2 linked regions of the Homo sapiens genome follow. The protein of the gene in region 1 purifies or fractionates together with the protein of each later gene. This does not show direct contact. Each region holds a gene or a part of one and is shown on either strand. Other genes may lie near its edges.

Region 1 (5,527 bases):
CTGTACCCTGCTGCGGCCAACCTGACTTGACCCCAGCCTTCGGCTCTGCATCTCTCAGTGGGCAAGCTAACCCAGCTCTTTCTTCACTGACTTACTGTTTCTTACCTTAAAAAATAATTGCAGATGGAAATCAGTTGTGTTTGGCAGAAGAATAAAAATAATTGATTCAGACAGTTTCTGGGGTATATTAAGTGTTCTTAGATTAGCTGAACCTCTCACTTTGCCCCAATTACAAAAATAGTGGAACAAACGACATAAAACAATAAAATAAAACACAGTGGAGTAAAACCTCCCTTGAAGGCCCAGGTCAACACCTAACCCACTAAGACTTAATCGGGTCTGCCTCTTCGGTGGGTTTGATGATGGCTGGATGGAGGACAGGCGCCCTCTGCTCCCTGCACTACCTCCATCTTTTTGCCCTAGGGCTTTTTATAGAGTGACAATAGCCCCGCCCATAGGAGCTCACAGTCCAGAATCGTCTTAATTCACACACACCCACAGTGCACACTTGTATATTTAAAAGATAGGGAAGAGGCTGGGCGGGTGGCTTATGCCTGTAATCCCAGCACTTTGGGAGGCCGAGGCGGGTGGATCACTTGAGGCCAGGAGTTTGAGACCAGCCTGGCCAACATGGTGAAACCCTGTCTCTGCTAAAAATACAAAAATTGGCCGGGCATGGTGGCGCGCACCAGTACTCCCAGCTACCTGAGAAGTTGAGGCAGGAGAATTGCCTGAACCTGGGAAGCAGAGGTTGCAGTGAGCCGAGATCGGACCACTGTACTCCAGCCTGGGCGACAGAGTGAGACCCTGTCTCAAAATTAAAAAGAAAAAGGAAGAAATAAAAGATCTGGAATCAGTCTTTAGCAACTTTAATACTTCTTGATTTTTTGCCTAGTGTATTTCATGAGGAGGTCAGCTCATTTGCTCCCATTTGAACCATGCTGCCTCTGAAACTTAATTACATCCAGAAAGGACACTTGCATGCTAGTTTATCTATGGTCAGTTGTGGAATAGGTCTGTTTCTATATGCACATGTAACCCAAATGTCAAATATAAATTGGGTTAGGTGGGAAAAATAATTTTAAAAGGTGGAAAAAGTTCTATTATGTTGACATGCTTAAATATTGGTATATTGAGTATTCTTTCATCAGCATCTCATATTTACTGGCAAATACAGGTAATTTCTGTGTACTTTGAGATAATTCTGTTAAATTCATATAGACGTCAGAAAATACTTTTCAAAACAAGCTGGACCAGGCGTAGTGGCTTATACCTGTAATCTCAGCACTTTGGGAGGCCGAGGCAGTCAGATTGCTTGAGCTCAGGAGTCTGAGACCAGCCTGGACAACATGGTGAAACCTCATCTCTACAAAAAATACCAAAATTAGCTGGGTATGGTGACAGGTGCCTGTAGTCCCAGCTACTCAGGAGGCTGAGGTGGGAGGATCACTTGAGCCCAGAAGGTTGAAGCTGCAGTGAGCCGTGACTGTGCCACTGCACTCTAGCCTGGGCCACAGAGTGAGACCCTGTTTCAAAAAATAAATAAATAAATAAATAAATAAATAAATAAATAAATAAAATAAAAATTTAAAAAATCAAACTAAACTGGGGAGTTATAAAAATACAACTGAAATATAAAAAACAAACAAAGAAATCATATGCCTGAATGACCAAGAAGCTGGCTAAAGTGCAGATTCCAGGTCCCCACCCCTCCTAGAGAAGGCTCCAGGTCATTCTGCAGCTTGCTCAGGCTTGAAAACCTCTGAATTTAACCTGATGCCAGCCCTGGGAGGAACTTTAAGACTATCTTTGTGCTTTTTAAAGCTTTCATAGCTGTCCTCCAGCATGGGAATTAACACAATCTTACATGGGAGTGCCCAAGGGTGGAAGAAATACAAGTGGATCCCTCTGGCTGAAGGCCACAGAGGTCACAGCCTCTGTGGCACAGTCTCCCCCCGCCCCAAGAGCTTAGAACCATCCACCAACTTGACCATCTCCATAGTAACAGATGGAGAAATGGAAGCCCAAAGAGGGAGGGATTTGTCCAAAGTGAGGTGGGTGCTCTTGGTCAACCCAAGACTTGCCTTGTCTCTGAATCCCCAAAACTTAGAGCTTCCTGCCTCACCTAGCCTTGCACACAGCGGGTGGTGAGCACTGCCCTCAGCCCCGCCCTTGGCGGTGTCAAACACACTCCTGGGTCTGGGCTGCAGCCTCAGGCCCTGAGCTCATCTTCCCATTCCTCCCCTAATTGTCTAATCAAAGGCATCTGCACTTAGCAAATGTCTCAGCCCCACAGTGACACCGGCTCTCTGGGGTGGTTCTCCTGCTGGAAGCTGGGTAGGTAGAGGGCAAGACAGAAGTCTTGAGTGAGACTCCCTTCAAGGAGGAGTACGAATCTGACATTTTTCATAACAGCTGATGCTATATCTCATCAATTCTACATATACATATTTTGACATGTAACGCTTCTGAAATCAGAATGCAACATATAATCAATGGTATCTTGCAAACTGCCTCATGATTTAGTTTTCTAAAAAGTCTTATTAGTGCATAAAATAATAGTGCATCTTACAAAAAGCTGATCTTATGCTTGAAGAAATATAATAATTATCTCCTTTTTTGGAGGTACTGGCCTTGATGTACATTATGTTATTTAATCCTCTTAAGAACCCTATGAGGCAAGGTGTTATCACTCCCATTTTAACAGGTGACAAGATGGAGGCTCAGAGAGAGGTTGGGTCAACTGCCTTCCAACAGCTGGTAAGTGGTGTGATCATTAAGTTTATGTGGCAGCTTGGCTAGGCTACAGTGCCTGTTGTGTGGCTAGGTACTAGTCTAGATGTTGCTGTCAAGGTATTTTTAGATGTGATTAACATTTACAATCAGTTGACTTTAAGAAAAGCCTCCATAATGTGGGTGGGCCTCATCCAACTGGTAAAAGGTCGTAAGAGCAAAGATTGAGGTTTCCTGGAGAATAAATTTTGCCTCACGACTGCTAACACAGAAATCATGCCTGAGTTTCCAGCCTGTGGGCCTGCCCTACAGATTTTGAACTCTACTGCAACATCAGCTCTTACCTGAATTTCCAGCCTGCTGACATGCCCCACAAATTTTAGACCACAGCCTCTGCAATCACATGAGCCAATTCCTTAAAATAAATCTCTCTCCATATATATCCTACTGGTTTCTTTGGAAAAACCCTGAGACGGTGATGGAGCTGGGGTGTCAAGCCTTATACACCCCTCCGCTGGCCTCTGTGTGCCCAGGGAGGCCCAGCTCCTACTCAGAGGGCAGGACTCAGCTCCCGAGGTCTTGCTGCTGCCCCCAATATTCCACCCTCTACCATAGGGAGATGCTCACCAGGGCTGATTTGAGAGAGGGAAGGAGGGGCCGGCCCAAGAGGGGATGCCTAGGACAAGAGGTGAGAGATCAAGAGCAGGTGACGTGTTTATTGTGGGACGCCTCTTTCTGGGGGTCGTGCTGGCTGTGAGGGAACCCTCACAATCCCCAGGTCCCAGAACAGACAGATACAAGAACTTGAATCCAAACTGCTTGCACATAAATAGAACGGAGGTTGGCAAAGGAAAAAAAAACAACAACAAATGAACGTGCAGCCTCCTATGCTAGTGTGACACGGTGGCAGAGTCTTATCCACACCCCGTCTCTTTTCTTACTGTCTCCATGCTGAGATTTTCAGCTGCTCTGGAAAGATTCACCACCTTCCGATCTGACTCAGCAGCAGACAGCTGCCTTCCTGGCGGCCCCTGCCACAGTCTCCAGGACTGGCAAGGGGCTAAGGAATCCAAGACAGGTATTCCTCAAACAAAACAAAAATTGCTTCCACGGTCCTTTGCACCTCCCAGTTCTGCTGGGTGAACAATGTGTCCCCCAACCCCAAACTAAACCAAAGAACATGCTGAGCACAAGCTGCGAGTCAGAATAAAAACATATTGCACATGGTTACAAGAGTCTTCCTGAGGGCCCTCTCGCTGCAGATCCCTAAATACTGGCTTTTGATCCAACCAGTCGCTTGCCTATCAATGGTGGTATCAAACGCCCATGTACATCCCACTCCCCAAATACAGGTGGGACTAAGCAAATTTTCCACATTGCTATCCTTCGCTATCAGCCACACTCAAAGCCTAGACTGGGTTAAACTCATGCCCTGTAAGTATGTGGTGGAGAGAGGTGGGAACTGTTTAAATCTTTGTCTTCCTTTCAACGAGCTTCTCCCTCCCTGGGTAGTTATTAAAGTTCTAGTGGTGAACACAGCCTCCAAGACGTGGAATCTTCCGGAACCGAGAGCTGGGAAAATGGTTCTCTCCAACCATATGCCTTCAAAAAGGAAGCTCTGTGGTTACCTGCGGGTCCATCACAAGTTGGGTTCAAACTTGGGTTCCAAATTAACAGCCCTCATGTGGGACAGGCAGTGTGGCAATTAAATTTGTTTTTTTCTCCAAAGGAATTTTCAAGTATCACCAAATCCCTGATACAGTGTGTAAACAAGACATCTTACGAAACAGAAAGCAAGACCACTTCGGGAAGCAGCAGCACATGACATATCTAAAAGGCTGAAAATGGTTTTAGGTTCGAAAACAAAGGCAAGACAGCCACCCACTGTGCCTCGCAAGGCAAACACTCAGGCATACACACCAACTCAGGCCCCTCTGCATAGAGCCAGGGAAAGAAAAGCACCCAATATGGGATCCTCCGGGGGTCCTGAGAACACGCCAGGCTGCCCCTCCTTTTTCAGCGGTGTAGCTGCCATCAGCAAAGAATAGAAAAGTCTTTAATGCTAAAAACTGGACATGCTTGAGATCAGTGGTCTGTGTCCAGTTCCCACTCTCCTGGCCTCTTATCAAGTCTTTCTCGATTCACTGGGCCCCTGTGTGGGGGGACGGCCACCAAGCCATCCTTTTGTACCCTAGCCACACGTGGCAGACGTTTCTCAGAGGAATGCTCTCGGGTGAGGTATGTTATTGAATGTTTTGCTCTGGGTCAGTTTTATTTAAAAGGAGCACAGACCCTCCACGTTCCAAGGCTCTTCAGGGATGGCCTCCTGCTGCCTCACTTGGCTGAGCTCTCCTCTTCAGTGTCCTCTTCCTCTGCCCACATCTCCAAGGCTTCCTCGTGAGGTCTGGAGGTGGCCTATCTGTCAAAGCAGCCGGTGGGGAACATGTGGCTCCCACTGAAGTAGCTGCTTCCATAGGTGGTGGCGAGGCAGTGCCTGGGCTCAGCTGCAATGGCCATATGCATGCTAAGGGATGCAGGGACGGGCACGGGACACATATCCAAGGGCTGCAGCGGTTGGTACGGGGTGTGGAGGGATGAGCCTGTACTCCCCGAGAGCAGGCTCCCTGAACGGTGGGCCTGCAAGGAGTCCCGATAGGCCAAGCATAGGTCCTGCACGGGGGTCTGGAACTGTGCCAGGGTGGTCGCTGGCTGGCCGAGGGCCGGGTAGGCTGGTGGCTGGAACAGCACTTGAGTGGGGGTGGGGGGTGTGCCGGGCACCATTGCCAAGGCCTGG
Region 2 (8,137 bases), about 13 Mb from region 1:
TCCTCTGCAGTTTAGGCTGCCAGCCCCGTCTTCGCCTCCCCTCCTTGTTCCCAGGCACTGCTTTGTCAGGCTCACTACTATATGTCAGTGGATGGGGACTGGTGACATCCATAAATCTCACCTAAGCTGATGGCCACCTCCAAATGTTGGCATTGCTCTCCAATGAAGCAGGAGAGACGTTTCTGAGATATAGTAACAGGGCGTTTCAACAGGGCATATAAGTGGCCAGGGAGAACACGAAGAAGGTGAGTCTGATGCCACATGCCATCTAAAAATGTATTTGCGTTGTTGGCACTGGAGCCATATGTTGCTTGTTGTGTTCCTGCCTTGCCCTGAGCAGCAACTCCGCGTTCCCCTTGGGACCCTGGGATAACCGAAGTGGGTCAGGCCCTGACTATATTTATCATATAGAGCAAAAGGAAAGTGTGGAACTGAAGGACTCAATCAGGGTTTCGACCGGTCAGCTTGGGAGAGAAAGATCTGCTACTCAGGAGGAATAGAAGTCTGCTCTTTTGGAGGTCCTGAGTTATTCGGGTTGGCTGCCCACACACCACATGACGGATTTCTACATACTTTGTGTCTCATTTTCCTAGTAGGTGAAATGACTTCTGAAATGTATAATTGGGGGTTCCTGCCCCTGCCTCTCATGCAGTGGGCTTTGGAGACTGAGTTCTGGGTGGCCAGACACAGCGTGTCCCCTTACAAGGTGTTTATCGTTTATTATGACATTGGTCTCCAGTCCACCCTGCCTGTGTAGACACAGCTTATGAGTGCAGAAGGGAGACACTGGCATAATGTTTTATACCTAGACTGTCGCTTGCAAGCACTAAAACACACCACAAGGAACAGCAAAGGAAGTTGGTTAACAAGGCTTTCCAATGAACGTTTCAATCATGTATGCTCACCCCAAACATTCTTCATGCTCTGGATGGATTTTTACCTGGGCATCAAATTTTCCAGCGTTGTGCAGAAAAGTCATGCAAATCCCATGTAAGCCCCGAATCTCACAAGAGTTGTTCTCGAAACATTCAAACACGCCACACCCCACATCGCCAGCGTTGACCAAACAGTGCTGGATCTCCGCTAAAAGGAAAATCACATACAAATATATACAAAACTCTAACCCATGCTGGGCAATGCAGAGAGGTCATTTGAAATAAAAGTTAACAACTAAAGGAAAATTTAAGGAGGAAAAAAGACTTAGTAATGACTATTTCAGGACCTAAAAAGCCTGGGAAACAAAATTTCGTCCTTTAATCTACTCATGAAAAATATCTCTATTTGTAAATATTTGTAGAAAAGAGCCGAAAAATTACAAAAATTACAACCAGAAGGCTGGTCTGAGCATTCCTCCTTTTCATCCTTTCCATTTTATTAAAGTATTTGTGGGAATACTTAGTTTGAGAGCAAAATATATTTCCGCTTTTTAAACCCACAGACAAAAATAAAATTTTGAGTCGAAGACTGTACTTCATCAATGAAGTACCCTTCTCTACTTGATCTGTAGAAGTTGCTGCTATTAAATCACAGCCATTTGCTTCCTGACCCCCAAATGACAGCATCTAAAAAGCAGTTTCAATTCAGCTTTATGATTCAACACCTAAAAATCAAAACAAAATTCCTATTAAGGCAGTGCCTCCCAACCCTTCGCATTAAAATACCAGCTAGGGAAGCTGCGGTTGGCGAGCAGGCTTAGGAGTGGAGTCAGCTGGGGGCGAGCCTTCAGAAACGCCACTATCAGAGGTTGCAGGCTCCTTTTAATTAGGGATCCGGGTGAGGTATCACCCAATCCCCTAGAATTCCCGCAGCCCGGGAGGAAGCTTGCAGCCCTTCACCGAATGTGGCCCCCAGTCCTCTCTCGGAAGGGGCAGACGGAGGGAGTTAACTGTCAGGCTGCAGCGTGCAAAGCCTCTTCCCTCCCTTTCCACTACCCAAGTCTCTGATTTAAATCAACCACAAAATTACATCAGAAAAGTATATTTTGGAAGAAGGGCGGGGTCGGAGCAGATAACCCGCATCAGATTAAATCTAGCCAGAGAATGAGGGGCGTGTATTGTTGAGGGTCACCGACCACCGAGAATCAGGTTCAGTTCTCAGAGGAAGCGCCAGAGGAGGGGGAGGGTGGGCGAGGGTCTCGGGGTGGTGGGGGTGCCGGCCCCAGCATGTGGAGGCGACAGGATCCGTAAGACCCCACGCGCCGCCGGGGCAGGACCGCACAGGGCCGCCATTCACTCACTTGGGGCGTCCCTAATGGGCACTCGTGCATTCCAGCTCGTGCGGTGAGCGCACGCACGCCGCCGCTGCCGCGTTCACACGGCCCCCCAAAGTCGGGGGAGGGGTCGTGGAGCGAAGGAGCTGTAGGCAGATTTTCTTTCTCTTTCCGAGCTGGGAAAAGGGCCAGCCCCGTGCCCTGCACGCCTGGCTCTGCTTTGCAGCTTGCCGGTGAGCCAAGAGCCGGTAGAGCAGAGGAGGCGCACGGTTCGGGTCGTGTCACCATTTCTTGGCTTGCTGACCTGGCCAGGAGCTGGGGATGGCGGCAGCACCGCGGAGGTACGCTTTGCGCTGCCCTCACGCTCCCTTCCGAAAGCAGTGCCCCCAGGGGGAAAGTTCGCAATGCCATTTGTCTCGCCGGCAAAGTTCTGGGATGTCGGGCATCTTTTGAGGAGGGGGAAGACGCGGCACCCTTACTGAGGCCGGCAGGCCAGGAAGAGAAGTTCTCCGGGCGCAGGGCGCAGCCCAGCTCCGGGGACCCTCTGGGCCTCCCGCGTGCCGGCCGGGATGAAGCGCGCTTTGCACCGGACCCGGGATTCGGGGGCGGGGGCTGGCGCTGGCAGCGTCAGACGCTGCTTCATTTCCCCTCGACCCTGGGGAGGACAGCAACAAGTCCTGCCCCAGCCATTTCATCACCCTGCTAGCACGTGCAGATTCCGGGCCCTCGGAGCCCGGCGCGGACCTCGCCTTGCCTCGCGCTTCCCTTTGCACGTCCCGTGCCATCCCAAGAGTTTGCGTGGCCCTGGGTGGGCGCCTGGCTCCCGGCGAAACGCCTGGGGCGCGCCGCGTGGGTGCACGGTGTCCTCTCCCAGTAGCTCCCGGCTGCGGGGGCACATGCACTTACCTGTATTCTGCAGGGACAGGCGGCCTTTCTGCTGGGAGCTCCTGTCTTGGGGACCCTCGGGTGGGTTGGTGGCGTCGGTCCCCCGCGCCGGGTCAAAGGTGGCCAACACCAAAGCCAGGGTCATGAACTGGCCCAGCCGCTCGGCACACATGGTTCTTGGTATTAACCTCCCGTCGGGAGACCTGGATCCTTTGTGCTCCCCTCTTCCTCCTCCTCCTCTTCCTCCTTCGCCGCTTCCCCTCCTCCTCCCACTCTTCCTTTTTGCTCGCCTTTTCCCTCCTCCTCGCGGCCGCGGCTCGGATAGAGGTTACCCAGCGCCCTCCCGTAGCTCTCCGGAGAGCATGTGACCAGGCCGTTAGCAGCGCCGCGAGTGCCCGGCAATGGCAGGGATGGTGCCTCAAATATCCCTGGAAGCTCTGGTGTCACTTGAATGAAGGAGTCGAGCAGGTGTTGTCCCGGCGGCTGGACCAATCCGAGACCCCGGCCCTTTTGACAACACGGCCGGGAGGCGGGGCCTGCGCTCAACTACTACAGGAGGAAGCCGAGCGCCGCTGGGAGCGCCGGACAAAGTTGCCGACCTGGCGGCGGCCACGCGTTTGCGTGCGTGTGTATGAGTGTGTGTGAGCGCGGCCGGAGATGCGTGCGCGTGTGCGGGTGCTCCAGGGCAATGGTCGAAAGGACTGTACAATATAAGAGCGAATCCAAGCTCCAGTTGCTGTTAAAGGGGGACGGTGTGCTCTGGGACAGTGTCCCTGGGGCCCCTGGCTCGCGTCACACCCACATCGGGTTGGGAAAGTTTCCTCTTTCCGCCGTTTGGAATTCAGTGAGATTCCCAGCCCAGAGGACTTGATAAATTGAAGCAGTTTCCTAGGCACAATGATGCTGTGGGCCAACTGAGCACACATGGGAATTCCTGGCCTTGTGACACTTTGCATTAAAAAGAACCCCACGATTGAAGATAGGAGCAGAAGCACTAGATACAGTATTTGGTCTGAGCAACTGCCCTATCTTCCCGCTTTGGTGGGCCGTGCAACACCTGGAGTGTCGTTTCTCGTCTTTCCCCTAATCCAGACGCATTCCAGGCTGGGCTGCAGGGATCCAGGTGACAGTCAGGACTTGCATCATTTCCAGGAGGGTGGCAGGGAGGCCCAAGGCAGCCCTGAGTCAGCCCGCCGCGGAGCATCGCGTGCCCGGAGGCCAGAGCTTGAAAGGCAACTTTACGCGTCTCCAAACACACTCCTGCATTTTCTCAAAGCGCTGCTCGCCACCCCGCTCCGGGTTCCCTTTTACTCTCCAGTCATCCGATGGAAGTGGTGAGAACAAAAACAAAGACAAAAAAGCTAAATCCGGGGAAGTTATCTCCATCTCCTCCCTTTTCTTGTTCGGCCCCCTCCCCAAGAACCGCCGGGTCGGGATAGCCCCCGGCTACTTTCTCACCCGGCCCGTGGAGGGAAGGAGAAAGTTGGGCGCCGCTTGGAGCGCCTCTTCCCCTGCTGTGTGTGTACGTGTGCACGCTCACGTCTCCCCCGCGCCGGGGCCGGGGACAGGAACTGCTCTCGGTCCCGTCACCCCACGGCGCAGCTCGGGGGGCTCGCAGGGCTGGGGGAGGGCGGGGACACGAGCGCCGCGCCCAAGCGCCCCAGGGCACGCACCCGGCGTTGGCGCGCACTCGCCCCTCCCCCCGTCCCCACCCTCCTCCTGGAGAACAGGTGAGCCCCGGTACCAGCTCTCGATCCCCCACCCCCGCCCCGCGCCCCGCCCGCGCCCTCTGCGGTAATGCGCCTGGGAAGTTTCATCACCCACTGCCCAGGCGACGCGGCCCTGGGTCTCCGCGGCGGGGCGCACTGCCCGCCTGGTTGGGGCCGCCATGTGACACGGCTGGGGGAGGGGGCGAGGAGACACGCGGGCAGGTCATCTTTTGGCCGGCGCTTGACTTCCAAAGCTTTCCTTTCCCGTGTCCCGGCTGCACGCGGGAGTGGGGAAGGCGGAGGCGGGGGGCCAGGATGGCCACGGCTGGCCGCAGCTATCCGGCGTGTCGAGCTCTCCTGAGTCGGAAGGAAGGAGAGGAGGGGGTGGGGAGGGCGTCTTCAGAGTGGGCTTCCCCTGCGCTGGAGCGCCAGGGAGCATCCATAAATTGTCACTTTGAAGGTCCGAACCTGCGGCGGTAGGGACCATGCCCACTATTCTAATAGCAATTACTCCGCGCAGCCTTGGATCTTTTGTGCAAGGACGTGCGGGTACAAATACATTAAAACGGCCAGTTCACATTGCCCACCCTGCTTGTGTTTGCATAGTTAACTTAGCTTCCTAGTTTATGGAAAACTACCTCCTGTAGATCCTTAAAAACAAAGCAAACAAACGACACAGCGGCATTCTGGCCTCTCCTAACTAACTCTTTAAGGCTCTGAATTTCCTGAGAACAAGTAGCCATTTGGTCCCACTCCTGCTTATGGGTACAGCTGGGTAGACTTTCTTTCTATGTGGCCTCTTTTGTAGGAGAGAACATGAGCAATATTGACATTAAGAAGGCATCTGGTCACCTGTTTTTTTTTGAGAAGCAGAAATAGGAGAGAGCTCCATGGGGCAGGAGCAAGCCCTCTTTTGCCAGATGCAGACACTTAGTGTGCTGGGCAGAGGCCTCCCAGGATACCTGGAGCGATGGCCAGGGGGATGGAGCTCTCCCTGCTCCTGCTTTGCCCAGCCTTTGGCTAGGCCTACCTTTTGCTACCATGGGGCCCCTGGGGCTGCCCTCAGAGGACCTACATAGTTTCAAAGTTCGTCCTGAGGCTGTTTGCTCCTGCCTTCCAAGGGACATTCCTGGTTTTCACCTGAGCCAACTGCCCCTTTAGAACCAAAAGAACACATAGTAGCTAGAATTGGAGGTGGCGTAAGCACAGGCACTAGTTCTTAAGGGTTTATCTCTGGGCCACTTAGCCAAGTCCAAAGCATCCAGATAAGAATGCCCATCTGAGTCCGACCCGCCAAGGCTGTGAAAATTCCCTTGCAGAATCACTAGGCAGTTTGCTGAAATGGCCAGTCTAGGCCGCAGGGGTAGAAGTGGGATGGGGGCTCAGACTGGTGACTTTGTTGTGATTGACTCCCCCTCTCTCTGGCTGATTCCTTTAGCTTTATAACTGAGGCCAAGTTTGGCAGACTGTGGCTGATGAGGGTGGGGCAGGGGACAGTAATAATAATCATTATTACTATTATATAGCTAACATGACACCGCACCACACACCACACTCATGCCTTTGGTGTCCCTCCAGACCTAGGGCCCTCCCTAGATGGGAACTGAGGCCTGGGAGGTCTCCTGGATGGACCAGCTGCTGTCCTGAGGTTCAGCAGCACCTGTCTGGATGGGCCCTCCTCCTCAATTTAACGCATACACAGCCAGGAAGAGGCAGACATGACCTACCTTGTGTCATCCAGGGCCTTCTGTGGTTGACGCCTGGAGCCCATGTTTTCCTGTCTAAATCCACTTTGCTAGTTACATGCGGTCAACACTGAGTGGCAGGTTTTGGGGGAGGGGATATTTGGGTTAGACCATGAAGGATGGGGGAGGATAGTGACAAGTAGAGGCAAGGAAAAAAGTGGGCATGGGAGGTGGGAGGACCAGCAGGGCTAAATGCATGGAGAGGATCCGGTGGGATTTGTATCAGGAATAGGGGTTGCCCAGTTAGGTGTGAAAGTGGGACATCAAACTGGGGAAGTCGGCCAGGGCATGTTGTGAAGGCTGGGCTCCTTGTGACAAATCTGTGCTCCTCACGGAAGATCTGACGGTATTTAAGGATGAGACTGTAGGGCGCTTTAGACTAGGTTCTCTTTAGGAATTAGGAAATGCTCAGGGGCCCAGAGCTGCCATTGTGGAGAAAGAGCAGAGGAGTGGGAAGGAATTAGTTGGAATCTTCACGTGCGTCTCGATGCCCAGCAAGACAGACGTGTTCTTGCTCGAGTGTGAGCCGAAGGGGCTTTAGCGGATGGGCATAGTTCGTGGGTGCTGAGTCAGTGATGTGCAAGTTGACACGTGCTGCCTGGTCCAGGCTTTCTGAGTTCCGGAACCTGAGTGGAGAACATGGCTTACACGTGGGGAGCTCCACCCACTGCACGCCCCGCCCCCTTGGGGCCGACTGTCTGGGCTGATGGCACCACCTTATGGTCAGAGAGGGAACTGTCTGGCTACACAGTCCTCACGACTCTGCCTGCCTGGAAAGTTCTGATATTGGGTCTCCAGCCTTCTCCCCAGTTTCCTTTCCTTTTCTTAGCAAATCAATTAATGCAGATTTAGCCAATCTCCTCGCAATAACATGCCTTAATCCCCCCATCAAAGAGATCTCTTTCACACTTATTTTCCCTCTTGCTCCCCTATCCGTTGCTGTTTTCCTTTGTGAGTCTCAAATTTACCCTAATCCTGGCTCCTGTGCATCATACCTGTATGAAGGAAAATGAAAAAAGGTATCAAGGTGAAACCGGACAGAAAAAAATAACAAACTGCTGCTATCAGGCCTCCCAAATTATCTTGCAAGCAGAGGTCTCTCCCTAAAAAGCCTCCATCTCCCAGCACTTTGGGAGGCTGAGGTAGGTAGATCGCTTGAGCCCGGGAATTCGAGACCAACCTGGGCAACATGGCAAGACCCCGTCTCTACAGAAAATACAAACATTAGCCAGACGTGGTGGTATGTGCTTGTAATCGCAGCTACTCGGGAGACTGAGGTTCTGGGAGAATGGCTTGAGTCCAGGAGGTTGAGGCTGCAGTGAGCTATGATTGCACCACTGTACTCCAGCCTGGGTGACAGAGCAAGACCCTGTCTCAAAAAAAAAAAAGCCTCTATCTTTGCTCTTATCTTTTTTTCATTAAACTGGTTATTTCATTAAATATAATTCAGGATAAAGGAGATTATATCTTCAATATTTGGGTTTGTTTATTCTTAATACTATAACCAAATTATATTCTACTAATTTATACCATAAAAGTGCAGTGCCCAACAACACAATGAGTTAAGAAGGATTTTGTGGTGCTGGCCT

The links.
Region 2: the proteins of CCNJL (region 1) and STC2 purify together in Homo sapiens (affinity purification with mass spectrometry; 3 studies listed by BioGRID and IntAct, with this or other methods). This does not show direct contact.

What each region holds. Positions count from the first base shown.
Region 1 is NC_000005.10:160,248,230-160,253,756, forward strand, and holds the end of CCNJL (cyclin-J-like protein), read right to left. Parts: coding exon 5,149-5,527; 3' UTR 854-5,148; downstream 1-853.
Region 2 is NC_000005.10:173,324,928-173,333,064, forward strand, and holds the start of STC2 (stanniocalcin-2 precursor), read right to left. Parts: upstream 3,488-8,137; 5' UTR 3,267-3,487; coding exon 3,116-3,266; intron 1,084-3,115; coding exon 941-1,083; intron 1-940. UniProt on the Homo sapiens protein: Has an anti-hypocalcemic action on calcium and phosphate homeostasis.